Linked DNA regions of Homo sapiens. The protein of the gene in region 2 purifies or fractionates together with the protein of the main gene of each other region. This does not show direct contact. Each region holds a gene or a part of one and is shown on either strand. Other genes may lie near its edges.

The links.
Region 1: the proteins of ARID4B (region 2) and SAP130 fractionate together in Homo sapiens (co-fractionation; 4 studies listed by BioGRID, with this or other methods). This does not show direct contact.
Region 3: the proteins of ARID4B (region 2) and SUDS3 purify together in Homo sapiens (affinity purification with western blotting; 3 studies listed by BioGRID, with this or other methods). This does not show direct contact.
Region 4: the proteins of ARID4B (region 2) and ING1 purify together in Homo sapiens (affinity purification with mass spectrometry; 2 studies listed by BioGRID and IntAct, with this or other methods). This does not show direct contact.

The regions. Positions count from the first base shown.
Region 1 is NC_000002.12:128,010,995-128,018,077, forward strand, and holds part of SAP130 (histone deacetylase complex subunit SAP130), read right to left. Parts: intron 6,922-7,083; coding exon 6,686-6,921; intron 5,554-6,685; coding exon 5,395-5,553; intron 3,921-5,394; coding exon 3,809-3,920; intron 2,161-3,808; coding exon 2,036-2,160; intron 1-2,035. UniProt on the Homo sapiens protein: Acts as a transcriptional repressor. May function in the assembly and/or enzymatic activity of the mSin3A corepressor complex or in mediating interactions between the complex and other regulatory complexes.
Region 2 is NC_000001.11:235,318,126-235,325,208, reverse strand, and holds part of ARID4B (AT-rich interactive domain-containing protein 4B), read left to right. Parts: intron 1-7,083. UniProt on the Homo sapiens protein: Acts as a transcriptional repressor. May function in the assembly and/or enzymatic activity of the Sin3A corepressor complex or in mediating interactions between the complex and other regulatory complexes.
Region 3 is NC_000012.12:118,371,556-118,379,592, reverse strand, and holds the start of SUDS3 (sin3 histone deacetylase corepressor complex component SDS3), read right to left. Parts: upstream 3,039-8,037; 5' UTR 2,902-3,038; coding exon 2,760-2,901; intron 1-2,759.
Region 4 is NC_000013.11:110,709,106-110,716,778, reverse strand, and holds the start of ING1 (inhibitor of growth protein 1), read right to left. Parts: upstream 3,080-7,673; 5' UTR 2,630-3,079; coding exon 2,494-2,629; intron 1,768-2,493; exon of another isoform or gene 1,336-1,767; coding exon of another isoform or gene 771-1,335; intron 1-770. UniProt on the Homo sapiens protein: Cooperates with p53/TP53 in the negative regulatory pathway of cell growth by modulating p53-dependent transcriptional activation. Implicated as a tumor suppressor gene.

The DNA.
Region 1 (7,083 bases), on a different chromosome or scaffold from region 2:
CCCTCCTGTACAAATGTGATTGGAGTCAAAATTCTGCCCTACTATTGGTACCAATGGGATCTCACCCTTCAATCTAGAGTTGCCACAGGTCTGTTGTTGGTCCTGGTGTAGACATTTTACGCTGCCATCCAACCCAGCACCTCCACAGAGGGCCTACTCAGCTGCTGAATAGAGCTGTTGGCTCTCAGGCCATCTACGTTAGTGAGTACAAGGGCAACTCAAGGTAACAGTATTCTTTTCTAGGTAATCGTTCAGGGTGCCCATATCCTTTCTGGATGTTTTCACATGGACAGAGTGCCCTTATCACACTTACGTGTGAAATCTTCCTCTAAAAAATAAGCTCCACACTGGGCTTCATCCACATACCCACCATTATTCTTCGAATCACCTGAGTTCTGATTCTTCCCTTGCTCTTAACCCTGAAACATGCATCTAAATGGCCGAGCTCTGCCCATTCCTCATCCTTGCTTTTCATCTACAGCCCTTTTACCTGCCGCTTCTACCATGTGCAGGTGCGTGTCTCACACTAGGGCTACAGCACCAGCTTCCTCACTCGGGAGCTCCTTGTCTTGGTTCTCGTCTTCCTCCAACCCTTCATATGTATCACATATACTACTAGAGGCCTAATACTCCTCCGACTCTGTTTTCTTGGCCAGAAAAGTATTTATCTTGAAAGCTGTAGGCTAGACAGATACTACCCAGTATCATAATCAAGACTTCCTTATTATCTTAAACCCAGTTGTTTCATACATCTGTCTGTCCCCTGAAAGTGCTTAAGGGGACAGACCTCCTGTATGTGATTCAGCTAGATTAATCTTATCTTTCTTATTTTTTGTGAGATGGAGTCTCACTCTCTCGTCCCAGCTAGAGTGCAGTGGCACGATCTTGGCTCACTGCAACCTCTGCCTCTCGGACTCAAGTGATTCTCCCACCTCAGCCTCCCAGGTAGCTGGGATTACAGGCACGCACCACCATGCCCAGCTAATTTTTTGGCATTTTAGTAGAGACAGGGTTTCACCATGTTGCCCAAGGCGGTTTCAAACTCCTGATCTCAGACAATCCGCCCGCCTTGGCCTCCCAAAATGCTGGGAATTACAGGTGTGAGCCACTGCGCCTGGCCTAATCTCATCTTTCAACAGTATTACTTTAATGATACACAGAGCCATTGTGTTAAAAAGACAAAAATGATTTTTGGCCGGGCACAGTAGCTCACGCCTGTAATCCTAGCACTTCAGGAGGCCGAGGCAGGCAGATCACTTGAGGTCAGGAGTTCGAGACCAGCCTGGCCAACAGGGTGAAATCCTGTCTCTACTAAAAGTATAAAAATTAGCCGGGCATGGTGGTGCACACCTGTAGTCCCAAGTACTTGGAAGGCTGAGGCAGGAGAATCGCTTGAACCCAGGAAGCAGAGGTTGCAGTGAGCTGGGATCGCACCACTGCACTTCAGCCTGGGCAACAGAGTGAGACTGTCTCAAAAAACAAAAACAAATAAACAAAAAAACGCAGTGGCTCTCTACTGTATATAAAGTCTAGTTTATACTCCATATCCTAGAGAACCCAATTTATAGATACTATATTTCCTGCAAATATATTATACTTCAGTAATAATGAGGTCATAGATTTCCTTAAGAAAAAGCTGAATGGCATGGACCATGTTCTTGGAATATACATAGATATACACCTAACTTTTAGGAGTCCACAGATCCCCCCAATCCAAATTAAAATCCCTCAATCCTAGCTAGCCTTTACTAACTGCTGTCTACAACCATCACTCCCTTCCTTGCCACTGTTCATTTCCCCCTTCACTTCCTCTTCACTTCTCTGATTCCTCGTTAGCACAGCCTTTCCAACAGGAAGGCTTCCCACCATCTCTCCTCTGCATTCTTACAGCTTGCCACATGACACTGTGCATCTTTCAAACTTCCCTATGTCTTGGCAACTAGATGGAAAGTCCCTGAGGTCAAGGATGTGCCTAGTGCCTGGCAGAATGAATAACTCCAATGAGGCCCTTAATGCACCCCAGGCTCCGACGTGCCTGGATTGGTTGGTGAATGATGTGCTGTACTGCTGGCTGAGCAGTAGCAGCATTTGGCAGCTGTGAGGTCGGCCTCAGGACTGTGGTTACTTTAGAACTGGACATCACAGCAGCAGCAGCTGCACCTGAAAAAAAAAAAGTGTTTATTATATTTATTCTAGTTATATTCCCTGGGAAAATAATCAGTATGTTTCCCAAAACTCAGATAGCATGTCAATATCGAGCTGAAGTATGGTATGTATACTTCCCATTTCATCACAGAGAAAACAAAGAAAATGTGTATTCAAGAGATTTAATAATAATTTATATTGCCTCTTCACAGACAACCTTAAGTGAAACTAGCTGCTGTTTTTTGTTTCTGTTAACTGCAAGTGTGCACAGTGGTAAAGCACACAGGGAACAGCAGTGTGATGCCACTGCCTCAGCTCTGACGAGGCTCGGACACTTTGCCTTCCAGTCTTTGTTCCATTAGAGCAGACGTCGACATTGCCAAAGGGACACATTATGAACCTTAACCTTAAACCTAACCCTGCACTTTTCACCCTGCAGACCCCCATAAGGGCCTGTGAACCACATTTGGAGAACTGCTGAGTTATGCTATAACCAAGCAAACCTGGTCTTGCGTTTGCTAACTTGATTTTGCCAACAATCTCCAATTGTTGTAAAGTCTCCAATAAAAGGTAAAAATTTCTAGTCAAAATTCATTTATTACCTCACAACCTATTAGAACTTAAGGGTAAAAATAAATTAATCTTAGCCATGTGGTGGCTCACACCTGTAGTCCCAGCCACTCAGGAGGCTAAAGTGGGAAGATCGCTTGTGCCCCAGAAATCTGAAACCAGCCTGGGTAACCCAGTGAGGCCCCATCTCAAAAAATAATTATCATCATCATTTTATTGTTACATAAGTTAAAAAACTGAGTAAAGATCATCACTGAACTTTAAAAATATTCAGTATTAATATTTGTGACTTATGTATTAAAAATAAAGACCATGTTGCAGATAAGCAGTCTAATAATAAAGACCATGTTGAGATTATCAAAGCTTGGGCAGTTCCTCAATATATAGGACAATTTTAGACCATATTAAACACTTTAATTGCATAAATATACACACTTGTAATACAACTATAATAAGCACATATTAAACCATGCTAAAAACATGGATTGCTCTAAGTTTATTTCTACTGTCTTGCGATTTTTTTTCTTTTTCTTGAGACAGGTTCTCGCTCTGTCACCCAGGCTGGAGTGCAGCGGCGCAATCTCAACTCATTTCAACCTCTGCCTCCCGAGCTCAAGCCATCCTCCCATCTCAGCCTCCTGAGTGCCATCCTCCCATCTCAGCCTCCTGAGTGCCATCCTCCTATCTCAGCCTCCTGAGTGCCATCCTCCCATCTCAGCCTCCTGAGTGCCATCCTCCCATCTCAGCCTCCTGAGTAGATGGGACTACAGACGCATGCCACCACACCTGGCTAATTTTTTGTATTTTTGTAGAGACAGGGTTTCGCCATGTTGCCCAGGCTGGTCTCAAATTCCTGGACTCAAGTGAACCTACCACCTCAGCCTCCCAAAGTGTTGGGTTTATAGACATGAACCGCAGCACCTGGCCTTTTTTTCTTTTTAAATAAAAGAGGTTTATTTGGTTCACGGTTCTGCAGACTGTTGTTCTGCAACTTTAACAAGCTGATTCTAGATACATTCTGTGTTACGTATTTTACCAAATGTATATCTACTACTACATTTTGAGAGTTTGAACAAAACTTGCAAGTCGTTACCTCGAGGTAAATGAGAAGCTCCAATGTGAAGAGGGGGCCCAGGAGCATTGCTGCGGATGATAGACATTTGCACATTTGTAGTCATGATGTGATGCAGGTTACTGGGATGGCCCTGAAAGAAAGAGGATAGAACGTTATTTTTACATGTTTGCTCTTAGCCATTGCCTCTAGGAAGTCACCTGCCTCCAAATGTGGGTCAGGTTGTTTTTTAGATAGTGAGTATCCCAAGAGAAAGGGCTAAGGACATTCAGCTTGAGCTACTTTTACATGCCATACCGTACAATGAACTGTGCTAACAGGCATGTGAGAAGTATGAGGACCCCACAACTGCTGCAGGCCCACATAATTACAGATAATATACTTCGATATCTACGTTTAGAAACTCTCATCTGCGATATTACCTTTCACACTTGTTTTCCCTGTTCTGGCCAAATGCTTATTTTTTTTCCCATTCTCACTATTTCCTTTACATACCACTGCATCCATCCATTCTTTAAGCTTTTTTGTTTCTAAGTAAATGTCAGTTGGTATCCAACAGGTGCTCCCTACCAGTTCTTCAGCTCAACCCTGAAATGTCCCTTACATTCTCCCAAACCACAGAGTTCAGGGCTTCTCAGCTAAGGGTTCTGGTACTTCTGAGAGTACTCAGCAGTATGACAAAAGGAAAAAACACAGTACACCTCTTTGGGATATAAATTTTTCTTGAAAATGTGAAGGGAAAGTTTTTAGATTTAGTTTTTTTCCCCAGGTAAAAAATGTAAAATATTTAATTAATCAGGTACACAGCAGAGTAGGATTGCAAAATTTCACAAAAAAACCTTAAAACAGAAGACTTCAGAATAAATGTTCGCAACTAAGGCTGGGTGCGGTGGCTCATGCCTGTAATCCCAGCACTTTGGGAGGCCGAGGCGGGCAGATCATTTGAGGTCAGGAGTTGGAGACCAGCCTGGCCAACATGGTGAAACCCCGTCTCTATTAAAATAAAAAAATTAGCTGGGGGTGGTGGTGCCCGCTTGTAATCCTAGCTACTCGGGAGGCTGAGGCAAGAGAATGGCTCGAACACGGGACGTGGACGTTGCTGTGAGCCAAGACTGCACCACTACACTCCAGCTTGGGTGACACCGTGAGATTCTGTCTCAAAAAAAAAAAAAAAAAAGTTTGGAACTAGAGAGCTGCTTGAGGTAACCTATCCCAAGAGATGCACATCTGCTCTCCTCAGAGAAACCACAGAGCAGCACTGCCTACCCCCGGAAGGCAGTTCTTGACGCTAAAACCAAACACGAACCGGACTCCGGACTCCTCAAGGACACGGACTGTTTTATCTAGATTTATATATCACACTAGGGTCGAATCGAGCATCTAGTAGCTGCTCAATAAATTCTAGCTAAATGACCACTATGGACACTGGCTTCTACTCCCTTTACAGTTATCCTTCTCTCTCAAACCTACTATCTTCACTTGCAGGTATCAGTGACTGTTTGATCTTTTTTTATTACCGTGACTAATGTACTGCTAGCATTCAATAAATCATGATCAACAGTTTGGCATTTCAGTTTGAAAATCAGCAAATTAAAAGGAAGAAAAACCTGTTGTCCACTGATTGTTGCCACAGGAATGGCTGAAGCTTGAGGGATGCTACTCTCCATGGTAACGGTAACCTGCCCTGGAACCTTGGGGGGAAGTGACAGGGTAGAAGGTGGAGCAGGAGCAATGGGACGGCTAGGCATGGTGGGCTTCGGGGGCGGCTGCAAACAGAAAACCACACAAAACATATCAATGGCCTCATACTGGTGATGCATTTCAATCCACAATTAAGAGTGCACAAATCGAACCTGGAAAGTGCCAGGAAAGATGCCGTAAGCTTTATACATTTTATCTATTATCATCACAGTGTTTCCACTGAAGTACTAGCATTTCTATTTCACAGATAAAGAAACATACAAAGCAAGGCTAACTGACTTGCTCAAAGCCACACACACAGTAAGAAGTAGAACTGGGAATAAAGCCCAGAGCTGTATGGCTCACAGCCCACACCCTTTCTTCTACATGATGCTGCCTCCCAAGTTTGGGTGGATTGAACAAAACTCCCAGTAACTGAAACACAACCCCAAGGTAATACACAGGCAATATTCTCAGAAACCCCCAAATTAACCAGTTATTAAAACAAACCTTAAAGAAGAGTGCCACTCCACTTGGTCCCATGGTACTGGGTTATCTGAACTTATAACATTACTGTCAGCTGGGCACAGTGGCTCACGCCTGTAATCCCAGCAATCTGGGAAGCTAAGGCGGGCAGACCACTTGAGGCCAGGAGTTTGAGACCAGCCTGGCCGACATGGTGAAACGCCATCTCTACTAAAAATACAAAAATTAGCCAGGCGTAGTGACGTGCGCCTGTAATACCAGCTACTTGGGAGGCTGAGGCTGCAGAACCGCTTGAACCTTGGAGGTGGAAGTTGCAGTGAGCCAAGATCGCACCACTGCACTCCAGCCTGGATGACAGAGAAAGACTCCGTCTCAAATAAAAACAGAAACAAAACATTAATGTCATTAAGCCCCCACTGCTAAATCTGACTGGCTTAAAAAAAAAAGAGGGTCCCTTCAAGATTGTATCTAACTTAACATGCCCATAAGTTGAATAATATCAGTATCAAAATGGATAACAGCAAAGATCCTATGATGCCAACTGCCCAGCAGCACAAGACAAGGCACTGCAGAAAATCAGGGCTGAGTTACAGAAAGGAGCTGAACTCATATGTCATAAAGAAAAAATGAAATGTGATCCTAAGATACAGCCTAAGATTTTATACAAATTGTTACAAACATTAGCCAGTCTCGAGCTCTGGTTCAGTGTGAAGTTTTAACCCTCTCCATTACCTTCATAAGTCCCTCCGAAAATGAAAGTGGCACTGCTGGCGTCAGGTGTGCTGGCGGGGCTGTCACTGCAACAGGTGTGGCTGATGCGACAGCATGGTGTGTCGACAACATCTGCACCTGTGGATAGGGCCTTACCACAACAGGCTCTTGCTTCTCCTCCCGGGACTGGAGGGAGCTGCTGGAACTCATGTGCTCCCTGGCACTGACTTCAGAATCTCGACCAGATTCATCATTGACTAGTAAAGACATTAAGAGTGAGACAGTATGTCACAGTCTCCCAGTGTAAGATAGCAGCACAGACAAGAGTGGTACCTGAAGTTAAATCTCAGGATTGACAAAGTGGCCATTTCCTTGTGATGTTTTCTTAACAAGGTCAATATGGGCACTGGATTCTCCTG
Region 2 (7,083 bases):
TTAACGTTAAAAGGAAAAAGTTACTAAAATAAATTTCTAACTTCATACAAGTACTTCCTGTTATTATAAGTATAGCAAATCTCAGAGAATTTGCTAGTAATTATTAGTACTAAAAACTTAGCTTATTTCTTACAACTTTATTTCTTATGTGATAAAAGATGAGAAGCTTCTTGTAATTTGTATTTTGCTTTAGCAAAAATTGCAATTCAGAATCTATTTAATGTTGAGTGTATTAGGCCTAAATTTTGTTTCTTTTTCTGTGTGTTCCCAATTTCTTTCGTTCTTTTTTATTTTTCTTTTTGATATAGAGTCTCACTATTTCACCCTGGCTGGCACGATCTGTAACTGCTGCCTCCTGGGCTCAAATAATCCTCCCACCTCAGCCTCCTGAGTAGCTGGGACTACAGGCACACCTGGCTAATTTTTGTAGTTTTTGTAGAGATGAGGTTTTGCCGTGTTGCCCAGGCTGGTGTCGAACTTCTGGGCTCAGGTGACTCTCCCGCCTTAGCCTCCCAAAGTGCTGGGATTACAGGCGAGAGTCACCGTGCCTGGTGTAATTTCTGTATTACGATGATCATTGAGCTACAGAAGGTTTTATGCCATTTATTGGATCTTACCAAACATATTTGTACTTGGGAGCAAGCTTTTAAGTTTGAATTGTCTGTTGTATTAACGACAACAAATCTTTAAATTTTATTAAGTGACAGTTTATTGAGGTGATTGAAAGTTAGATTATGTAGTAATACTTTTTAGGTGTTGTTTTAAAGTTGAAGTGTTGTATGTTTTAGCAGTTTTCCCATGTACTACCTTTAAGAATTTATGTAAACAAATACATTCCCATTACTGTCTAATATATGCTATGTTACTTTTTTCACAGTATGTTTTTGAGGAATATGATTCGTAATACATAAGGAATTTGTGCTGTAACATAGATCGTGATGTTGGTGTTATGTTGAATTTATTTTTCATGCTCTTGATAGACTTTTAAAAATCAGTGGTGCCGGCTGGGCATGGTGGCTCACGCCTGTAATCACAGCACTTTGGGAGGCCGAGGTAGGAGGATCACCTGAGGTCAAGGGAGTTTGAGACCAGCCTGGCCAGCGTAGTAAAACCCTGTCTCTTCTAAAAATACAAAATTAGCTGGGCATGGTGGCACACACCTGTAATCCCAGCTATTCGGAAGGCTGAGGCAGGAGAACTGCTTGAACCCAGGAGGCGGAGGTTGCAGTGAGCTGAGGTTGCGCCACTGAACTCCAGCCTCGGCGAAAAAAGTGAAACTCTCTCTCTCAAAAAAAAAAAAACTAAATAAAATAAAATAAAAATCAGCAGTACCACATTATAAGGAGGTGGTAGATTATTAAAGTTTGTAAATAATTCCAAGACTTATTTTTATTATGTCAGGTTGATTTTTACTTTTTTTTTTTAAGACGGACTTTTGCTCTTGTTGCCCAGGCCGGAGTGCAGTGGTGCGATCTCGGCTCACTGCAACCTCTGCCTCCCAGGTTCAAGCAGTTCTCCTGCCTCAGCCTCCTGAGTAACTGGAATTATAGGCATGCACCATCATGCCGGGCTAATTTTGTGCTTTTAGTAGAGACAAGGTTTCTCCATATTGGTCAGGCTGGTCTCGAACTCCTGACCTCAGGTGATCTGCCCGCCTCGGCCTCCCAAAGTGCTGGGATTACAGGCGTGAGCCACTGCGCCCGGCCGATTTTTACTTTTTTTAAACTCAAACTTTTTTTTCCTGTATCTATATTGTACATGTTATTAACGTCTTTTATTACGTAGCAGTAAATTTTCAATTAAAATGGGCTGGTTGGGCTGGATATACCAGAATCTTTAGAGGAGGAATGATTTAGATGATTATACTTTGGCGGGCATGGTGGCTCATGCTTGTAATCCCAGTACTTTGGGAGGCTGAGGTGGGTGGATTACTTGAGGTTGGGAGTTCAAGACCAGCCTGGCCAAAGTGATGAAAACCCCGTCTCTACTAAAAGTATAAAAAAATTAGCTGGGCATGGTGGCGCATGCCTGTATTCCCAGCTACTCAGGAGACTGAGGTAGGATCGCTTGAACCTAGGAGGTGGAGGTTGCAGTGAGTCGAGATGGCACCACTGCACTCCAGCTTGGGTGACAGGGAGACCCCATTTCAGGAAAAAAAAAAAAAAAAAGGTGGTTATATTTAGAATCCACGTAGATTGAATTTTCCAGATGTACTTTTCTTTCTTCAACAATGATTGGCTTAGGCCACATGAAAAAATAATGGATTGATTACAAATTCCCTTTTTTAATGCCCTGTGTGTGTGTACATGTTCTCTCTCTCTCTCCCCCTACCTCTACCTTTGTTTGTCTCCCTATCCACTCTGTCAGTTCGTTCCCCCCTCTCTGTTCTTTTCCTTCCCCCTCTTCCTTCTGTCTCACCCCTTTCATAAGTCATTCATTTAACAACAACCCGTTTCATATATCAGGTAATATAGAATGAAGGTGGGTGAGGCATCTGACCTGCTTTCAGGGAGCCCACAGTGTAGCAGAAGATGCAGATAAATAAAGCAAAACTCCTAGCATATCTATTTATGAGTATTCCAACATAAAATAATTGTAGGAAATGCTATGAGAGGACAGAAGAGGACAGCTAAATCAGAGAGCTATGGAAAGTTTTCTGGTGGAGTTGACATCTAAGCTGAGTGCGAAGGCTTTTGCTAGGCAAAGAAGGGAAGAAAAGTTTTTCAGATAGAGGATAACGTACTGGAAAATGAACGAAACAAGGTGAAGTATCTGGAAACTGTAAGTAATTTGGTGTGACTGAATTAACTTAAAGCATGATATGTTTGGGTAGGAATAAAAGGGCAGTGGTGGGAGATGAAGCTGAGTGAGGGAGTCGAAAATTTTCTTGGCCAGGCATGGTGTCTCACACCTGTAATCCCAGCACTTTGGGAGGTTGAGGCAGGTGGATCACCTGAGTTCTATACCAGCCTGGCCAACATGGTGAAACCCTGTTTCTACTAAAAATACAAAATTAGCAGGGCATGGTGGTGTGAGCCTGTAATGCCAGCTATTAGGGAGGCTGAGGCAGAAGAATAGCTTGAACACGGGAGGTGGAGGTTACAGTGAGCCGAGATCATGCCATTGCACTCCAGCCTGGGTGACAAGAGCAATACTCTGTCTCAAAAAAAAAAAAATTTTTTCTTGAAAACTACATGGAACCATTGAAAGTTGTTGAGAATTGCTTGAACCCAGGAGCTGGAGGTTGCGGTGAGCTGAGATCAGGCCACTGCAAAAACAAGGGGAGAGCTGAATGTAAGGATGGAAATTCCAGGTAAGAAGTCCAAGTGGAAAATGAATAAGGGCCTGAACTAATGCATTGGAAGTGGAGCAGAGAGGATAGATCTGAGCCTTTTTGAAGTAGAATTCAGGGCCGGGCACAGTGGCTCACACCTGTAATCCCAGCACTTTGGGAGGCTGAGGTGGGTGGATCATGAGGTCAGGAGATTGAGACCATCCTGGCTAACACAGTGAAACCCCGTCTCTACTAAAAAAATACAAAAAATAGAAATTAGCCAGGCTTGGTAGCGGGCGCCTGTAGGACGCTGAGGCAGGAGAATGGTGCGAACCTGGGAGGCGGAGCTTGCAGTGAGCCGAGATCACGCCACTGCACTCCAGCCTGGGCGACAGAGCAAGAGTCTGTCTTAAAAGAAGTAGAATTCAGGACCTAGTAACTCATCCTGGGGTAGGAAGAAGATGGAGGTTTTTTTCTTAGGAAATTAGATAGATGTTACTGTCATTTGAAGCATGCTGTCATTGGACCTGCTAGTTAAGATGTAAGAGTAAGTAGGTAGGATGAAGTCAGAGGCTTGGTTAATCTGGTGTGAATGTTAACCTCATATCTATGATATTTGAAGGGATTTAAGATCCATAACATGGCAAATTTTGTGCTATAAATTTGTGGTCCTTTAGATGAATAGGTAATCTTGTAAAATACTAACATGTTTTCTGTCCAAATTGCTAAATCTTTGTTTATTGTAATTAAAAAAAATACTAGGTGAGTACCTATGTCACTGAAGAATGTTTTTGCCAAGTCAGCCAGTGAATTCAGTCATTGAACACATTGTGTACTTTCCTTGTACCGGACATTGTTCTGGGTTTTGAGGATGCAGCAGTGAATAGAACAAGAGTTCTTACCCTCGTGGAGTTTACTTTCTACTATGGTGGACACACGTTAAGAAAAAAAATAATGCTAAGTGCTTTGAAGAGAAATGATACGGAATCAGAATAAGAGGTTAGAGTGACAGAGGGTGGGTTACTTTAGATTAGGTGATAATGGAGGGCCTTTTCGAGATGACATTTAAGTGTGCTGTGAAACAAGTGATAGAGTGAGCCATTCAGGTTTCTGGGGGAGGAGCATTCCCTGCAGAAAACAAGTGCAAATACCCTGAGATGGAGTGTGCTTGGCATGTTTGAGTGTGATACATTTAAGGAACATTAAGGCCATCAGGGCTGGAGTGGTAGGAGAGGAGGTCAGAGAGGGTCACAAAGGGCCAGTACAATTGTAGGGCCTTATAGGACATGGTAAGGACTTGAGTAAAATCTGAATGTGTTAGGAACCCTTTGAAGGGTGTTGAGTGAAGTGATGTGATAAACATTTTCAAAAATGTTTGACTGCTGGGTAGTGAACACATCATGGGTTCGAACAGATCATGGGAACACAAGAGTGGAAGTAGGGAGATCAGTCAGAAGGCTGTCAAGCTAGTCCTGGGGAGAGATGGTGGTGAGGAGAAATAGTAGTATTGGGAATATATTTGAAGATGGGGATGATTGGATTTCAATGGATTGGGTGTGAAGGGAAAATTCTACTTACTGCAACTTGCACATGTATGTCCTCCCACAAGTGCCCTCCCTCCTTTTCTTTTGAGACGGAGCCTCTCTCTGTTGCCTAGGCTGGAGTGCAGTGATGTGATCTCGGCTCACTGCAGCCTCTGTCTCCCGAGTTTAAGTAATTCTCTTGCCCCAGACTCCCCTGTAGCTGGGATTACAGGCACCTGCCACCACGCCTGGCTAATTTTTTTTGTATTTTTTGTTTTTTTTTTTTTAGACGGAGTTTCGCTCGTTACCCAGGTTGGAGTGCAATGGCACGATCTCGGCTCACTGCAACCTCTGCCTCCCAGGTTCAAGCGATTCTCCTGCCTCAGCCTCCCAAGTAGCTGGGACTACAGGCATGTGCCACCATGTCTGGCTAATTTTTGTATTTTTAGTAGAGACGGGGTTTCACCATGTTGGCCAGGCTGGTCTCAAACTCCTGACCTTGTTATCCACCTGCCTCGGCCTCCCAGAGTGCTGGGATTACAGGTGTGAGTCACCTCGCCCGGCCTTTTTTTTTGTGTTTTTAGTAGCAATGGGGTTTCACCATGTTGGCCAGGATGGTTCTGAACTCCTGACCTTAAGTGATCCGCCCGCCTTGGCCTCCCAAAGTGTGAGCCACTGCACCTGGCCGTCCTCCCTTTTTTTAAAAAAGTCTTTTTGCTGTGATTAGTTGGTAGATGGGATTCTTGGAACTGAGTATGACCATGAAGGCATTGTCAAATCTTAGCCTTCTCAGTGAGCAGTGAACATTGAGTTGAGCAATCCTTTCACTTGTTTTTTTAATTAAAAAAAATGAGATATAATTCACATACCATAAAATTCACCCTTTTATTTTATTTTTTTTGAGACATGGCCACAGTCTGTTGCCCAGGCAGGAGTGTAGTGGCGCAATCACAGCTCACTGCAGCCTTGATCTTCAGTGGGCTCATGTGATCCTGCTTCAACCTCCCAGGTAGCTGGGACCAGAGGTGCACGGCACCATGCCCAGCTAACTTTTAAATTTTCTGTGGAGGTCTCACTGTGTTGCCCAGGCTGGTCTTGAACTCCTGGGCTCAAATGATCCTCCCATCTTGGCCTACCAAAGTGTTGGGATTACAGGCATGAGCCACCGCGCCTCACCAAATTCACCTTTTTAAAGTGTTCATAAATTTCTAGTATTTTCACAAGTTTGTGCATCCATCACTACTATCTTTTGAAAACTTTTTTGTTAATTTCTTTTGTTTGTTTTTTTAGAGATGAGGTCTTGCTGTGTTACCTAGGCTGGCCTTGAACTCTTGTGGTCAAGTGATCTTTCCCCCTCAACTTCCTGAGTAGCTGAGACTTCAGGCACGTTACTTATCCCTAGCTATCTGTCACTGCTATTTAACTCCAGAACATTTCCAAATTCCCAACAAGAAACTTCTTATCCATTAGCAGTCATTCACTGTTCTCCCTTTCTTTTATCCCTCCAGTAACTAATCTAAATTTTTTTTTTGAGAAGAGTTTTGATTCTGTCACCCAGGCTGGAGTGCAGTGGCTCGACCATGGCTCACTGCAGCATCGACCTCCTGGGTTCAAGCGATCTTCCTGCCTCCAGCTCCCAAGTAGATGGGATTACAGGTGTGCGCCACCATGCCCAGCAAATTTTGGAATTTTTTGTAGTAGTGAAGTCTCACTATGTTCCCTAGCCTGGTCTGGAACTCCTGAGCTCAAGTGATCCTCTTGCATTGGCCCCCAAAGTGCTGGGATTACAAGATTCAGACACTGAGCTTAGCATTTACTTTCTGTCTATAAGGATTTGCGTATTCTGGGCATTTTCTGTTAACGGAATCCTGTAATACATATGTGGCCTTTTTGTGTCTGATTTCTTTTACTTCCCATAAGTGAAAGAAGTAGCAAGTGTTGACCAGGCGCGATGGCTCACGCCTGTAATCCCAGCACTTTGGGAAGCCGATGTGGGTGGATCACGATGTCAGGAGTTCAAGACCAGCCTGGCCAAGATGGTGAAACCCCATCTGTACTAAATAAAAAAATTAGCCGGGTGTGGTGGTGGGCGCCTGTAATCCCAGCTACTCAGGAGGCTGAGGCAGAGAATTGCTTGAACCTGGGAGGCAAAGGTTGCAGTGAGCTGCGATGGCGCCACTGCACTCCAGCCTAGGTGTCAGATCAAGACTCCGTCTCAAAAAAAAAAAAAAAAAAAAAAAAAAGGAGTAGCAAGTGTTAATACTATGCTCTTTTTTATTGCTGAAT
Region 3 (8,037 bases), on a different chromosome or scaffold from region 2:
ACATCAGGATACACGGTTGTCCCTCAGTATCCGTGGGGGAGTGGTTACTGCACCTCCCGTGGATACCAAAATCCTCAGCTGCTCAAGTCTCTGACAAAATGGCATAGTATTTGCATATAACCTACGCACATCTTCCAGTATACTTTTCTTTTTAATGAGACACAGTCTCACTCTGTCGCCCAGGCTGGAGTGCAGTGGCACAATCTCGGCTCACTGCAACCTCCACCTCCTGGGTTCAAGCGATTCTCCTGCCTCAGCTTCCCAAATAGCTGGGATTACAGGGGTGCACCACCACACCCGGCTACTTTTTGTATTTTTAGTAGAGATGAGGTTTCGCCACGTTGGCCAGGCTGGTCTCGAACTCCTGGCCTCAAGTGAACCACCTGCTTTCGCATTCCAAAGTGCTGGGATTACAGGCATGAGCCACTGCACCAGGCCAACAGTACACTTTAAATCATCTCTAGATTACTTAGAATATCCAGGCCAGGCATGGCAGCTCATGTCTGTAATCCCAGCACTTTGGAAGGCCAAAGCAGGAGAATCACCTGAGGACAGGAGTTCCAGACCAGCCTGGCCAACGTGGTGAAACCCCATCTCTACTAAAAACACAAAAATTAGGGCCAGGTGCAGTGGCTCACGCCTGTAATCCCAGCACTTTGGGAGGCAAAGGCAGGTGGATCACCTGAGGTCGGGAGTTCGAGACCAGCCTGACCAGCATGGAGAAACCACGTCTCTACTAAAAATACAAAATTAGCTGGGGGTGGCGGCACATGCCTGTAATCCCAGCTACTCAGGAGGCTGAGGCAGGAGAATTGCTTGAACTCGGGAGGCAGAGGTTGTGGTGAGCCGAGATCGCGCCATTGCACTCCACCCTGGGCAACAAGAGTGAAACTCCATCTCAAAAAAAAATAAAATAAACAAAACAACAAATAAAACCACAAAAATTAGCCAGGCATGGTGGCAGGTGCCAGTAATCCCAACTACTCCGGAGACTGAGGCAGGAGAACTGCTTGAACCCAGGAGATGGAAGTTGCAGTGAGCTGAGATCGTGACACTGCACACCAGCCTGGGTGAGTGAGTGAGACCCCATCTTAAAAAAAAAAAAAAAAAGATTACTTACAATATCCAATAAAATGTAAATACTATGTAAGTAGTTGTTACGCTACACTGTTTAGGAATAACAAAAAAAAAGTCTGCACATGTTCAGTACAGATCCAATTTTTTTCCTGAATATTTTTGAGCTGCGCTTGGTTGAATTCACAGATGCAGAACCCACAGATACGCAGAGCCAACTGTATACAATAAAAAAGGGGAATCTGACACAAATAAATATTTTCCAAGTTACAACTAAAGGGAACAAGGAGGAGGCCAGATGATCAAACGAAAACTGTTTCAGAACATCTTAAACATTGTTCTTAGAACAAGCTAATGGCTGGGGTGTGTACAAAATTTTAATAGCCCCTATACTGGAAGGAAAAAAAAACTCAATTTTGGCTCCACAGCGCCCCCTCGTGGGTATGAGATGAAGTGCAAGTGCTTCACATTCAAAATCTCTGGTTAAGCCGTGTCTTCTGATGGAATTAAATCGAATGCAGTCCCTCAACTTTGTATGTCATGCATATGCAGCTGTCTTTTGTAAGGCTGTTGCAGATCCAATTCCCCACAAACCCTTCTCCCCTCCTTCAGTCAAGAGGCCTTCCCTGAGTTCCTGTCATGGTCAGCCACATTACTTGGCACTCGGGAAACTCAGATGAATAAAACGTAGGCCCCATTCCAAACAGCTGGTCTAGCTTTTGCTCCACGGCCCGATTTTGTCCCAGAATATTCCGCTCATATATCGGTCTCTCTTTGTTTCCTATTTCTCCTCCCTTGATCTCTCACATTTCATCACCTTCCTCCTCCTCCATCCCTCCAAAATAGCGTTCCTCACACTTGCCAAATTATAAAGCCCAGTTTGAAAAGCAAGGCTCTGAGACTCTGTGATGACAGTGCAAAGAGCGTGGGACTGAAAACACAACACCTGGGGACCATTAAGCAAATCTCTCCCTCTCTTACCTGTTTCCGGGAGGGGGGCGGGTGGGGAGAACATTTACGGAGTATTTACAGTACCAGGCCAAGTACTTTATGCGCATGTCATTTAATCCCTATACCGACCCTAGGAAGTGCCTTCTAGGGCAGGTGTGGGAATTAAACAGCTCCATTACAGTTGGGTAAATCGAGGCTGGAAAACTTAAGTTTACAAAGCTGAGTTAAGTGACAAAGCCAAATTTAAACCTGTATCTGGCTGGTTCTAGGTCCCTTTCCTTTAACCAACCTGAGTTCTCAATAGTGTACTACCTAAAGTATAGATGACTTATGCATTTCGGGGGTGGGGAGGGGCAACTTTGGACTCTGATGCTCTCACACACAAAAAAGGGGCGAACTACACTCGATGTATTCAGTAAATGAGTTTCTAATTCCTACTAGTGAGTGAGGTTCAATCAGAAACGGCTGGGAGGGAGGACGGGGTCTTAAAGGGACCCCCAGCGTGACAACATCTAAGTCCCCTCTCCCCATCACGGTCGAGTGTAACGCACCCAGGGCTTCCCCGCTACTCCAGCACGGATGGGGGTAACTTCCCCGAGCCCCGCAACTCCCGGCGGCCCCTCCACGCAGCCCCAGGCCCCGGAGGCCGCCCCGCCCCTCTCCCGAACAGCCCCACCCCCTCCCCCAGCGGTCCCACCTCCGCTCCGGGCGGCCGGGCGAGCGGCAGGACTCACCTTCGTCCGACTCGCGGCCCCGACAGCTGCGCTCGTCGTCCTCGGCGCTCTCCAGCTCTTCATCCTCCTCGGGGTAGTACTCGGGGGCCGGCGGCGCTCCAGCCTGGGCCGGGGCCGGGGCCAGCAGCCCCGCGGCACTCATGTCGCCTCTGACCGCAGCTGAGCGTGGCCCACGGACACCGCGGCCACCCGCGCTCGGTACTCGCCGTCTGCCTAGCAGTGTCCGCGGCAGCCCCCAACTCGAGGACCGGCAGCCACGGCGACCCCTTCCCCGTCTCCGCCGAGCTCCGCCCCCCGCGCCCGCGCTCGGCAACGGGGGCCTCGCGCCGCGAGCGACTTCCGGGTCGAGAGCTGCCCGACAACGGCCTGATTCCGCCATCCTTGGGGGAGTGGAGATGCCGCTGGACGCCCCCGTCGCCACAACCTCAGCCCTTTCATCGCCGTCTTAAAATCCTCAACGTATAGTGGGGGAGGGGCGGAGCCAGGTTCGCTAGAGTCAGGCAAATCTACGGGCAGGCCCAGCAGCGGTCAGGACCCCGAGGCTCGCAGGCGACTTCCGGAGACAGCCGCCAGGCGGCGCCTGGAGCTAGAACTAAAGCGGTGATCGTTAGCGACCTAGGGGCGGAGGGTTTGAAGGGCCCTTGGCAGGTGGAGGTGGTCTCTAATTTAAGCAGGGAACGACGCGACCTGCCCCCTTATTAGGTCGGAAAACCTAGACGTCCAGAGTGTGCGTGATCATGCAGCCTGGCTCCTCCTGTGACTAGTTAGAGCTTTATTAAGAGCTAAAAGACAAGGATGCTGATATTCCATCCTGGGGACAGCAAAATAGTATTTTCCCAGCCCTTAGGAATCCTTTCTGTTTGTGTAAGGTTTATTCGGTAAGATGTTCCCCCGGTTTTACAAATGAGAAACGAGCTGTCGTTTGCCTAAAAAAAAATAGTAACGTCCAGTCTGATTTTTTAGACTCCGAGACCCAGGCCCTCCGCGGTACAGCTGCCTTGAATATTAATTTTTTAAAAGGTGCTTTTGCTTAATCCAACAGCTTGCTCTGAGCTCTCAACTGAAGAAGGGGAGAATTTGCCTACCAGAAGTTATTTGGCTAAGGCCCACGTGGAAGCTTAAAAAACAGGAGAGCTGAGTATCTGCAAGAATTAATTTGTGCGATTCCCTCTGAGTAGAAAAGGAACACGGTGTTATAAGTTTTGCTGAACGAATAGATTTAAGGTGTCCCTTTAGCTAAGAGCAATGTGGTCTAGTTGTGTGTAGCGAGAAAAAAGGGTAAGGTTTTTAATGGTTTGTCCAAAGTAGCCCCACTTTTATGTTCCACCCGAGTCTCCGTAGGAAACGCAACCAGTAGTGAAAATGAACAGATGTGAAAACCAGGGTGGAACCGAATATTCCCATTCTCAGACCTTTTGTGATTAAATTTATCTCTGAATTGTTCCCTATGGACTCTTCTGAAAATGAAACGTTATTCTCATCCCACTTATTTTGACATTTATTTACTACCTTGTTTTAATTAAAATCTTGGCTCTATTTGTAAGTGATTTTTTCTCCCAACAAAACTAAAGAATTTCCAGAATGGAATGCTAAGATGTCTTTCCAGGAGTTCTGAGATCTTCTGAAGCCCCTTCTAAATAAGAATCATTCTCAGATCGCACCGTAGGTCTGCCATCTATATTTAAACTAGGATTCCAGAACTGTCTCTTGTCCAAAAGATGAAGTCATTTTCTTTCTTTGTGCTGTTGGAGAACATCTAAATTACTTGCAATCAACTATATTGAGTAACTTGCGTTCCTGTCAGTAGCAGTAATCATAGTGCAGAAAAAGCAAAGATTTTAGAAATCAAGAGTTCATTGATACAATTAATTTTTAAGTTTATTTCGTTGCTAAATGGTTTCCTTTCAAGACGCTGAGATTTTTATCCTGCTTATGTTTTACTGCTGTCTTCTTGACTGCAAACAGCATCTGTTAATGGTCATGCATTTCTTTTTTATATGTAATGAATAGACACAACTGAGCACTTGGGTTATGAAAACTTACCCCATTTTTTTCTGTCCAGATTGCCAGCTGCAGAACTAAAAAATGCTCTTTAGTGAAGGTGGACCTACTCAAAAAAATTCTCTTATGGCTTTAGTCTTACCTAACCTTTAGATTTATTTAATATGATTTTGGACAGTCGCTATACTCCTGTAAAAATCAAGTTCCCTCAAAACCAAGTTTTACCACCTTGAAATCTTTTTATATATCCCTTCTCAAAACGGTACTCAGCCACACCGCTCAGGAACTCGACTTGACTTGAAACGAAGCCCTGCCAGCCCCATTTCCACAACTTCTTTGCTTCCAGGCCTTCTCTGCCTACCCTAACACCCAAACTGAAACTTTAAAGGGGGACATCACAATTGGAATGGAGTATGATTCTTTTTTTTCTTTTTCTTTTTTTCTTTTTTTGAGACGGAGTTTTGCTCTTTCACCCAGGCTGGAGTGAAGTGATGCGATCTCGACTCACTGCAACCTCCGCCTCCGGGTTCAAGTGATTCTCCTGCCTCAGCCTTTCTAGTAGCTGGGATTACAGGTGGGTGCCACCATGCCCGGCTAATTTTTGTATTTTTCGTACAGACGGGATTTCACCATGTTGGCCAGGCAGGTCTGGAACCCTTGACCTCAGGTGATGAATGGCGTATGATTCTTAAAACACTAGAAGAAACATGTATACTGTTTAGAACACAAACACATTTTGTCAGCTGGAGTTAAAAAGTTAACAATCGAGGGTTCTCTGAGAACTAAGGCCTGTATACATCTGACAAAACTTAGGATCAAAATGTGTTCCTGAGACAATTTCTTCATAAAATGCTAAATTCTAAAGTCCATAAACTTACTTTTGGCGTTAAGAGTAAGGAAAGCAGTTTTCTGTTTCCGGTGTTGATTTGATCAGCATATCCAGTTTCACAAAAATAACACAAATGGGTCTTAGTAGCATGATGCACTTTCACCCCTGGCAGGCACTATCCTTTAGCGTGGATCAAGAGGAGTCTCTGATTATCACATGTTAAACCTGGGTCAAAGCTCGTTATCCTTTGGCCACACGTTCACATAGAATCATTAAAACCTGTGGCCCTGGAAAAAGGTTATATTGAATAGCTTTGCTGAAACCTTGTTAAGCTAATAATAGGGTTCCCCTACCACAGTCTTCCTACTGTCATAAAAACCTACAAACTGAAAATTTCTAAAGCTTTGTCCTTGCACCTATCAAAATGTGCCCCGCATTGAACGCTTAGTTGGGCAAAGTATGCACCTAGTACTGTATATAGATTTTTTTTCCCCCAACGGTATCAAACTGACGGCTGCTGAACTCAATTCAAGGAGAGGCAACTCCCTTGCAAGAGATTTTAAAAAGAAATGGTTTAAATCCAGGAAATTTTTACAAATCCTGGGCAAATTAATGCTATATTAGTTCATGGCAGAATTACTAAGAAAGCTGTGCAAGGTCTAGCGAGAGACTGGGGTCCTCCCCAAAGGCTCTAACATGGTGGTCCCTGGGAATCTCCCAAGAAAAGTAAAGGCGTGGGGAGAAGCGCCATGAACTTTGACCGGAGAGCAGCACAAACAAGACTGACCGCACCCCAGGCGGGCCCGTAGGTTACTAAAGTTGCAAGGTCTTCCGCGTCTGAGGAGACCCCGCCCTGCCCTGTCCCGCCCATCGACAACTCCGCCAATCCTCGGGTTCCATCGACCGCTCGGCTTCCCAGGCTCCATCAATCAAATACCTATATACGGCCCCGGCCCTGTGCCCCGCGATCAGGGAAGGTCAGTAGAGAGCCTATTGGAGCCGAGCTTGGGGCGTGGTCCGGGGCAGGGGGCGGGCGGACTGAGACGGTGGGGCGGGGCGTGCTCGGCGCAGTCCGGTGCGATTGGCCACCCCTGGCAGGAGCCGCACCTCGGACAGCAGCAGCGGCGGCGGCCGCGGGAGGGTCCTTGTGGCGCCGGGCGGCGGGGTCCTGCGTGGAGAGTGGGACGCAACGCCGAGACCGCGAGCAGAGGCTGCGCACAGCCGGATCCGGCACTCAGCGACCGGACCCAAGGATCCGCCGGGGAACAAGCCACAGGAGAGCGACTCAGGAACAAGTGTGGGAGAGGAAGCGGCGGCGGCGGCGCCGGGCCCGGGGGTGGTGACAGCAGGTCTGAGGTGAGAGCACCGGGGCGCGGGGCATGACAGTGGGAGCCGAGGCGGCGGGACCCCAGGCAGAGTGAGGGGAGTTGCGGGAGCGGGCTCGACAGTGCAGACTGTGGAGAGGAGACCCCGGGAGGGACCGGGACAGCGGGTGAGGAGAGGGGACTCCGAGAGGGACCGAGGCAGTGGCTCTGAGTGGAGAGGACTCCGAGAGGGTCCAAGACTGAAAGTCTGAGGGGAGGGGTCTCCAAGAGGGGCCGGGACAGTGCGCGTGAGAGGAAGGGACCCGGAGAGGGGCTGGGGTAGTGGGGTGAGGGGTGGGTGCCTCATGAGGCACTAGGATAGGGGGATGAGGGGAGGGGGTCCCCTGAAGGACCAGGTCCCAGAAAAGGTCAGGGACAGCGGGGAGAGGGGAAGGGTCCCCGAGAGGGGCCGGCACTGAGAGTCTGAGAGATGGGGACCCCGAGAGGGGCTGGGACAGCACCCGGGGAGAGGAGACCCCGAGGTGAGGGGAGGGGACCCAGAGAGAATCCAGGACAGAGTAAAGAGAGGGGACCGGTCAGGGGATGTGAAGACAGGGGATCCCCAGAGGGCTTAGAACAGAGTGTGAGAAGACCCCAGGAAGGGCCAAGACAGTGGGAGAAGAGGAGGGGTCCCGGAAGGGGGCTGGGCTGAGACAGCGGGGCTGAGAGCAGGACACCTAGAGAGAGGCCGGGACAGCGGGTGGGAGCAGGGTGACCCCGAGAGGGGCCAGGACAGCGGGGTGAGAGGAGGGGACCCCCAGAGGGCTCGGGACAGCGCATGCGAGCGTGGGACTCCGAGAGGGGCTTTGAGCGTCGGGTGCAGGCGCGGACCCCGAGGGAGGAGCGGTGCCCCATGGGTGCGGGTCGGGCCCCCAGTCACATAGCGGGGGCCCGGCGTGAGCAGCGAGGGAGCGGGCGGGGGGTCGCGCCCGCTGAGTTGCGGGAGCCCCCCCAAGAACGGCTGCGGCGGGGAGCCTGGGTCGCAGTCGCGGCGTCGGGCAAATAGGAACCGGCTGCAGCGCAGACGAGTGGAGCGGGGAGGTGCTCCCAGGGTCTGGCATCAGCGACCTCCCTGAGGGTGGAG
Region 4 (7,673 bases), on a different chromosome or scaffold from region 2:
ATATTCCACACCAACATTACCATGGAAAGCAGCAGCACATGCAATTTACAGATTAAATGGGGTTGTAGCAACATTTAAATTGGTTTGTCCAATTATTTTAAATGTATTTTAATTTTACATACGGGTTGCACTGAAGTTCTTTATGAAGCGAACTTCCCAGGGGGTGGGTGGGTATTTTTATGATAATGTTTGAAAAATAATTCAAGCAACCTCAAACACCATTTTAAATCGACAAACTAATTATAATCCAAGTTTATGAATTAACATACAACTGATGCCTACTAAGCAAAAGACGTTTGACTTCCTACAGAGTAGGTCTGTGGAAGTCTTTCAGAACTACGCGGCAGAGCTCAGCATTTACACCGAAGTCCAAGGAGCTGTGACCCTTGCGACAGATTCGCTCGCTTCTCGGCGCTCCCAGCTGCGCCGCTCCAGTACTCCCGGGGGGGCAGGACTGTGATCTTTCCTGAAGCCAAAAAGTTCATCACCCTAGGTGAACATGAAGCAAGCAGCAAGCCAGGCTCTCCCCAGCAACGACAGGAGGACAAAGTGGCTCCATGAACTTTGCTGTCTGGACAGCTGGAACCCTGCACCCCGCCCCGCGCTACTTTTTTCTATCGTCGAACGATCAAAGTGGTCTCAGCCCCTGCCTTCCTTCCGTCCGGAGCCCCAGGGTCACCCCACGGGGCCCGTCCGGCCCGAGGACAGCACCTTCCAGAAAAGTTTCTGCGCCGAGGGTCCCCCTCGTGGACGCAGCCCCAGTCACTCACGTTTCCACGGCCACGCGCGGCCCCACCCTCGGGTCAGCAGAGATGCGGCCTGAAACTGTCTCCGAGCCGGCCCCGCGGGTCGCGGGAGGCGGTCCGAACTGCAGCCCCGGCCCCGAGCCCACAGGCCCGGGATCACTGCTACTGCTATAAATCCGCGCCCGAAAGTGGCCGGGCTGAGCGGGGAGAGGGGCCGGGGCGACACCCGCCAGGCCTCCAGCCAATGGGGAGGAGGCCAGCGGGAGACTCGCCCCGCACCCCGAGAGCCGCCGCCTATGGGAATCGCCGATTTGGAGGGCGGAGGCCAGGAGGAGAACCAACCACACCGCAGGGCGGAAGAGCACGGCCCGCCCCAGCAGCGAGAAGAACCAATCCAAGGCTGGAGGCCGAGCGACCCGAAGACGTTCAAATCAACTCGTCCACCCTCCACCCCGCTCCTCCCCGAAAAAGAAAAAAGAAGACAGCGGAAACACAGACCCATACCAGTTATTGCGCTAGGCCCGCCTTCATCCGCCTCAGCGACCAATCGTTCCGCAGGGGAATGATAAGGACATTCCACGAAGGACATCACAGCCAACTACTGGGGGGCTGAGGCGGGACGTTCCATAATATGCTAATGAAGTTCCTATAAAATTCGCTGCGAAGCTACGTCTCGGATAGAACGCGCAGGGGCGCCTTCCCGGCAGAGGCGTCTAGTACTTTCGGGGATAGCGGTCAATTTTTTTTTTTGCCCCCACCCAACTCTTCCGTTTCCCTACTGCGCAGCCTTGTAAACATTAGTAAACTCCGAGTGGTGATCCACATTCAAAACAGAGCCCCCAAAGCCTTGACTGACCTCGCAGGAAAGTTTCCCCAACAGCCAACAATTCCCGGCGGACACGAACTCGCCACCTCTCTCTGACACCCGGGGCGGCCAGGTCTGCAGAGAACGACGCACAGGTCCTCTCACCTGCCACAGTCCTCTCCAAGCCAGCGATCTGCCCGCGCCCCCCCGAGCGCAGCGCAGATGGGCGCCTTCCCCGCCTCCGCTCCTCCCCTTCCCTTCCCTTCCCTACGGCACACAGAGAAAAGCCCTCGTCCTCCGCAAACTACAACCGGCGGCGTCGCCCCTCGCAGTCGGCCCCTACTCGGTGTCCAGCTCCAAGTGAGGGCCGGAGGGGGCTGGGCGGGGGCGGCCGACCTACCCCGAGCGGAGTACTACCCGGTACTTTATGTAACACTCAGATTCGGGACTGAGTGGGGGGCGACGAAGAAGGGCCAGAGGAACGGCGTTGCCCGGGACCGAGGCACCGGGTCCGCGGGAACCCCGGCCCACAGCCGCCCTCCTCCTGCAGCCCCGTCTCGGCGCCCTATAGCCCCAGGCGCCGGCACATCCCTCCATCTCGCGCCGTAATCTGCACCCCCTCCTAGAGGACGCGGCTTGGACCCGCCGCCCCCTCCCCCGCAGCACCCGCCTCATCACTTCACTACAAAGAGCGCTTTGGTCGCGCAGCCTTGCAGCGAGACCTCTCGCGCCTCCTTCCTCCTCCGTGTCCCGGGCTTTGCACACAAGGACCTTGGCGAATCAAAGGCGCTCCAGACCTTTTGTTCCTGCCCCTGCCGAGGGCCGCCGCTGCGGAGCCGGCCGCTTCCTCCGGTCCACGGCAGGACCGGCCCGGCTCCGCGGCGCGCCCGGACCCGCCGGGAAGGAGGCGGCCGCCCCCGCCCATCCATCACCCGGCCGTACCTTGGTATTTCGCGTCGATCTCCCGCATCAGCGAGACATTTCTCTGCAAGTCGAAAGGCAGGGACTCGATGGAGTCCAGGTAGTCCTCCACATAGTTCACCAGGTGGAGCTGCTCCCCGTTGGCAGGACTCAACATGGTTCACCCCGGAGGTCCCCGGCGACTCGGCGCGGCTTTCCGCTTCCTCCACCCCCCGCCCCCCTCAAAAAATAGCACTGCAAAATGCAAAGCCCTCGCTCTCCCGGCGCCCCCCCGCCGGCTCCTGCTTCGGCCCGGCGGCTACATCTGCCGAGCCCGTCCGCCGCCTCCGGGTCCGCGGGGACCCCAGCGCCTGAGGGCGCGGGCCGCGGTGGCGGTGGCTCCCGGGCGCACGCCCCGGCCGGCGGCGCAGGCCCCCTCTCAGGCGGCGGGGCTGGCGCCGGGGGCCGCGCGTACGAGCGCGCACACACCGGCGGGAGAGGGCCCAGCGCCGCGGCCGCCGCTGCCCACTCGCCCACTGGGCTGGGTAGAAGAGAGGAGCGGAGCGGGCAGCGGGAAGGGGCGCGCTCCGCTGGCCGCCGAGCCGCACTTGTCCAACGTGGAAAACCCAAATACCAGTTTCAAACACTTGGGAAACATTCAGCCCCGCTGCGCAGCGCGCATGCGCCCCGGCCCCCTCCCCCGGCAACGGCCCCGCCCCCCGCCGCATTCACGCCCCTCACCGTCCCAGGCCCTGGGGGCTGCGGGCTCCAGGCCGGCCCTCGCGGGGGCGTGGCCTTGCCTGTCACTTTTTCCAGAGGCGAGGGTCGCGGAGGGGACAGCGTCAGGGCCGCTGGGGTGTGGACGGCGGGCGAGGCGCAAACTTTACTAGGAGTTTTTGGCACTTGGAGGCAGAGCCTGTTGGGCGGCACAGCACGCCCGCTGGGAAACGCAGGGGAGCGGCCTGCTTCGCTGAAAACCCGACCAGGACCTAACGGGCCGCGGGACAGAAACCTCCGAGACCATGGTACACAGCAACTACCGCAACTCGCTCCTCAGCCCCTGACTCTTCGTCCCCGCCCCACAGAGCAGTATAAGTAGGGCCCGAAACAGAACTGGCAACCGCAGTAGCCAATCTACTTGCCAACATCACTTTGACAGCCCAATCACGATGAAGAGGAGGCGGGGAGACCGTGAGTAATGCCCCCCGGACTCTTACTACTAGAAACCCAAGTCCTCCGGGAGGCGGAAGGAAGGGGAGGGCCGGGCACGGGCGGAAGTGGCGGCGCATGCGCACTGGCACCCTCTCGGTGTCCTTTGAGCTGCGGCCGCAGAGTGCGCGGGAGACCTACCCATTCCGCGGCCGGACCACCACTCCCAGCAGCCTAGGCGGCTCCCGCGCCTGCGCCATCCGTCACCGCCCTCCCTTTGTGTCGTCTCCCGGTACTCAGTTTGGAACGGCTTGGAGACAAAGGGGCCTGAGAGGGAAGCTGCTTCCTAGTGCCGAGCCCCAGAAGAGGTGGATAGGCCCGAGGGGCGCCTTCCCTAGGCCTTATCTCTTCCCGCCCTGTGTCATGGACACCGTTCTCGGAGGCCGCTCCCCACACTTGGAAAGGCCGCCCACAGTATGCAGACACCCGGTCGGCCGGCGTCCTGAGGCCATTCAGCTCCCCGGACCGCCCTCCCCCGCGTCGCCCCTCTACCCTCCCAAAGCTCCCGGATTTTGGGCTTTCTGAGAAGCCTGGACGCCACGCGAGCCCGTTGCCTAGGCGACCGGCCCCGCGCGCCGGCCCCCCCCCTTCCGGCCAAAGGGCCCGCCCCTCCTGGGCGTGGCCTCGTGCCTTTGTGCACTTCCCGCCTGGCTCTCTGGTTCCGGGGCGGCCTCGGCTTCGGCCTCCGCCCCGCTGCGGCCGCCGCGGGTCCCCTCCGGGGTGGCCCCGAGAGCTGTGTTCGCCACGCTTGGCTGCCTGCTTTTCTCTGATTTTCTTCCGCCTTGGACCCTGCTCTATTTGCATTGTCTTTTTTTCAGCAAGTCGGAGAACGGTGCCTTGTCAGTTTTCACCTTTCTCACTGGACTTTCTCTTTTCCGGAGAGCCGGGTTGGTGGTGCTGCCTGTGTATTCCACGAACTAAGCCCTGTCCCCAGCCCTTGCAGTGTTTCTGTATCAACTCCACGCCAGCGCGGTTCTCCATTTTTCTTAGCCTCTTAATTAGGACAGGGTCGGATTTCAGCTTTTATCCACCGGGTTTATCCTGTTGCAAAGCAGAGTACACAGTTTTAGACACAAAATAATTGCAGTTGAAATGGATACACATTCTGGTGGTAAGATTTGGAAACGTGGTATTTGATGGAACCCTGTTGTAACATCTAAAACTCTTTGGATTTTTTAAAAACGTATTCTGTGTAATCCAGTAAAAATTTGGATTCGTCCAGTATTTATAGAGTAGATTATTAACCGCAGTGGTGCTCATTCCAGGGCCCTGCCGGGTATTTTGTGCTATGGATGTGAGTACGGCAAAGAGACTGAATTAAGCTGTTTTGTATTTGGAATCGGATTGTTCACGTTGCAACGTTGCTGCAATGATAAATGGATGGATACTCTTTACACTTTGAAGTGGATTTAATCTTCACTTTTAAGCCCCTTCATCTCACCTACACAGCAGGAGAGCTTTGGCTTTGATATTTGGGGAAATGGCTGTTATTTTACTTACAGATCACGCTATTCTAGTCTTGGCCTAGTTAAAAGCAAATGAGTACTTTAGTTTCTACAAGATTTATTGGCCACTACTTGGTCTGCACAAAAGACTATAACACTTGGCCGGACGCGGTGGCTCACGCCTGTAATCCTACCACTTTGGGAGGCCGAGGCGGGCGAATTGCCTGAGATCAGGAGTTCGGGACCAGCTTGGGCAACATGGTGAAACCCTGTCTCTACTAAAAATACAAAAAATTAGCAGGGCATGGTGGCGCGTGCCTGTAGTCCCAGCTATTGGGGAGGCTGAGACAGAATCACTTGAACCTAGGAGGGGAGGTTGCAGTGAGCCGAGATTGTGCCACTGCACTCCAGCCTGGGCGACAGAGCAAGACTATCTCCGGAAAAAAAGAGAAAAAAAGACTACGACAAGATAACATTATGTGGAAACAAACATTATGTCGAATACAGAGTATAGAGGGAGTACAAAGTTGAATAAGGAAAATTACGCCTTTCCCTCAAAAAGCATATAAGTAATTTAAAAGTACAATAGTAAGAAATAGACCGGTTCTTCTATTCCTAGCATTCATTGGCTCTAGAATGAATAGTGTTTATCTGAACTCAAGAATAAAATTGGAAGTAATTTACCCTTTACAAAGATAAGATGGAGTTTAACCTAGGTTTTCTTTTTAAAAAAAAAAATCACAACACAGTACAATCTGAGTAATGATTTTGTTCCTCTAGTTATGTACTCTCTTCACATACACATAAACCAAAAAGGCATCTTAAGCATTCAACAAGGAATATTGACGAGTGTCTACCATGTGCCAACTACTGGTCCGTGCGCTGGGGATACAGTAGTGAAAAGTTTTTTGGAGCTTTACATTCCATAAAACTTTTAGCCCACCCCTTGGGATAAAAAGTCAAAAAAGATTTTATCTTTTTTGGAACAAACTTAGAAGATCAAGCAATAAAACATAATTACCTTTGATAACGAATTTTAAATGTCATTGAAGAAAGGTGCTTAATTTTGAAGATACGTTGAAGAATCTTGTCTCTTTCAGTTTTGTTTCCTGTGGCGTGTTGCAAAAATGGATGTTAAAACTTTTCCGTAGAACAGAAATTTCAAATGGATTAAAAAGAAACATTTAAAATTAAACTTTTTTCTAAAATTATATTTCCAGTCTAACTGAAAATGCTCAAACCTATGAGAGTCAGATATAAGAGATGAACATATAATTCTTTTTCTTTTTTTGAGACGGAGTCTTGCTCTTGTCACCCAGACTGGAGTGCAGTGGCGTGATCTCAGCTCACTGCAACCTCCGCCTCCCGGGTTCAAGCGATTCTCCTGCCTCAGCCTCCTGAGTAGCTGGGATTACGGGTGCCGGACGCCATGCCCAACTAATTTTTGTATTTTTAGTAGAGACGGAGTTTTGTCATGTTGGCCCAGGCTGGTCTCGAACTCCTGACCTCAGGTGATCCGCCTGTCTTGGCCTCCCAAAGTGCTGGGATTACAGGCGTGAACCACCGCGCCTGGCCAAGCATAGAATTGTTTAAGTTTCAAAGTGCTTAAAAAATAAATGCAAACTCATTCATCTTAAACTTGAAAACCCCTAAACCATATGCTACCGTAATCAACTCTACTTCTGATTTACAAGATTTTGCCTTGAAAGAAAATGTAATACTGAGAACTTGATTTTGTTATTGTTGTCATTAAGGACTGAGAAATGGCATTAGTGATATTTTGGAATCATTAACTTTAACACACTTCCTCGTTCTGACCTAGATTGGAGAGGGAGGTGACTTCAATTAAATGGATCCTCTTTTTATGTATATATGGTGTATTAGTCAGGGTTCTCTAGAGGGACAGAACTAATAGGATGGAGATATAGATATATATAATGTATATACATATATATGTTTATTAAGTACTAACTTACATAATCACAAGGTCCCACAATAGACTGTCCGCAAGCTGAGGAGCAAGGAGAGCCAGTCTGAGTCCCAAAACTGAAGAACTTGGAGTCTGATGTTCGAGGGCAGGAAGCACCCAGCACAGGAGAAAGATGTAGGCTGGGAGGTATAGTAATGAAGAGCATTAGCAGTCTATTTTACTTTACCTTAATATTCAACCTGCAGATATTCAATATGCAAAAAGATCACATTTCTAACCATCATTAGGTAATGAGCTATGTTTCTCCTTGTTTTGATGATCCGCAAAAGCCTTAAGAAAACAGAATTAGCTGCCGGGCACGGTGGCTCATGCCTGTAATCCCAGCACTTTCAGAGACCGAGGTGGGCGGATCACCTGGGGTCGGGAGTTCAAGACCAGCCTGACTAACATGGAGAAACCCCATCTGTACTAAAAATACAAAATTAGCTGGGCATGGTGGCACATGCCTGTAATCCCAGCTACTCAGGAGACAAGCAGGAGAATTGCTTGAACCCGGGAGACGTGAGAAAGAGGCAGGAGAATCGCTTGAACCCAGGAGATCACGCCATTGCACTCCAGCCTGGGCAACAAGAGTGAAA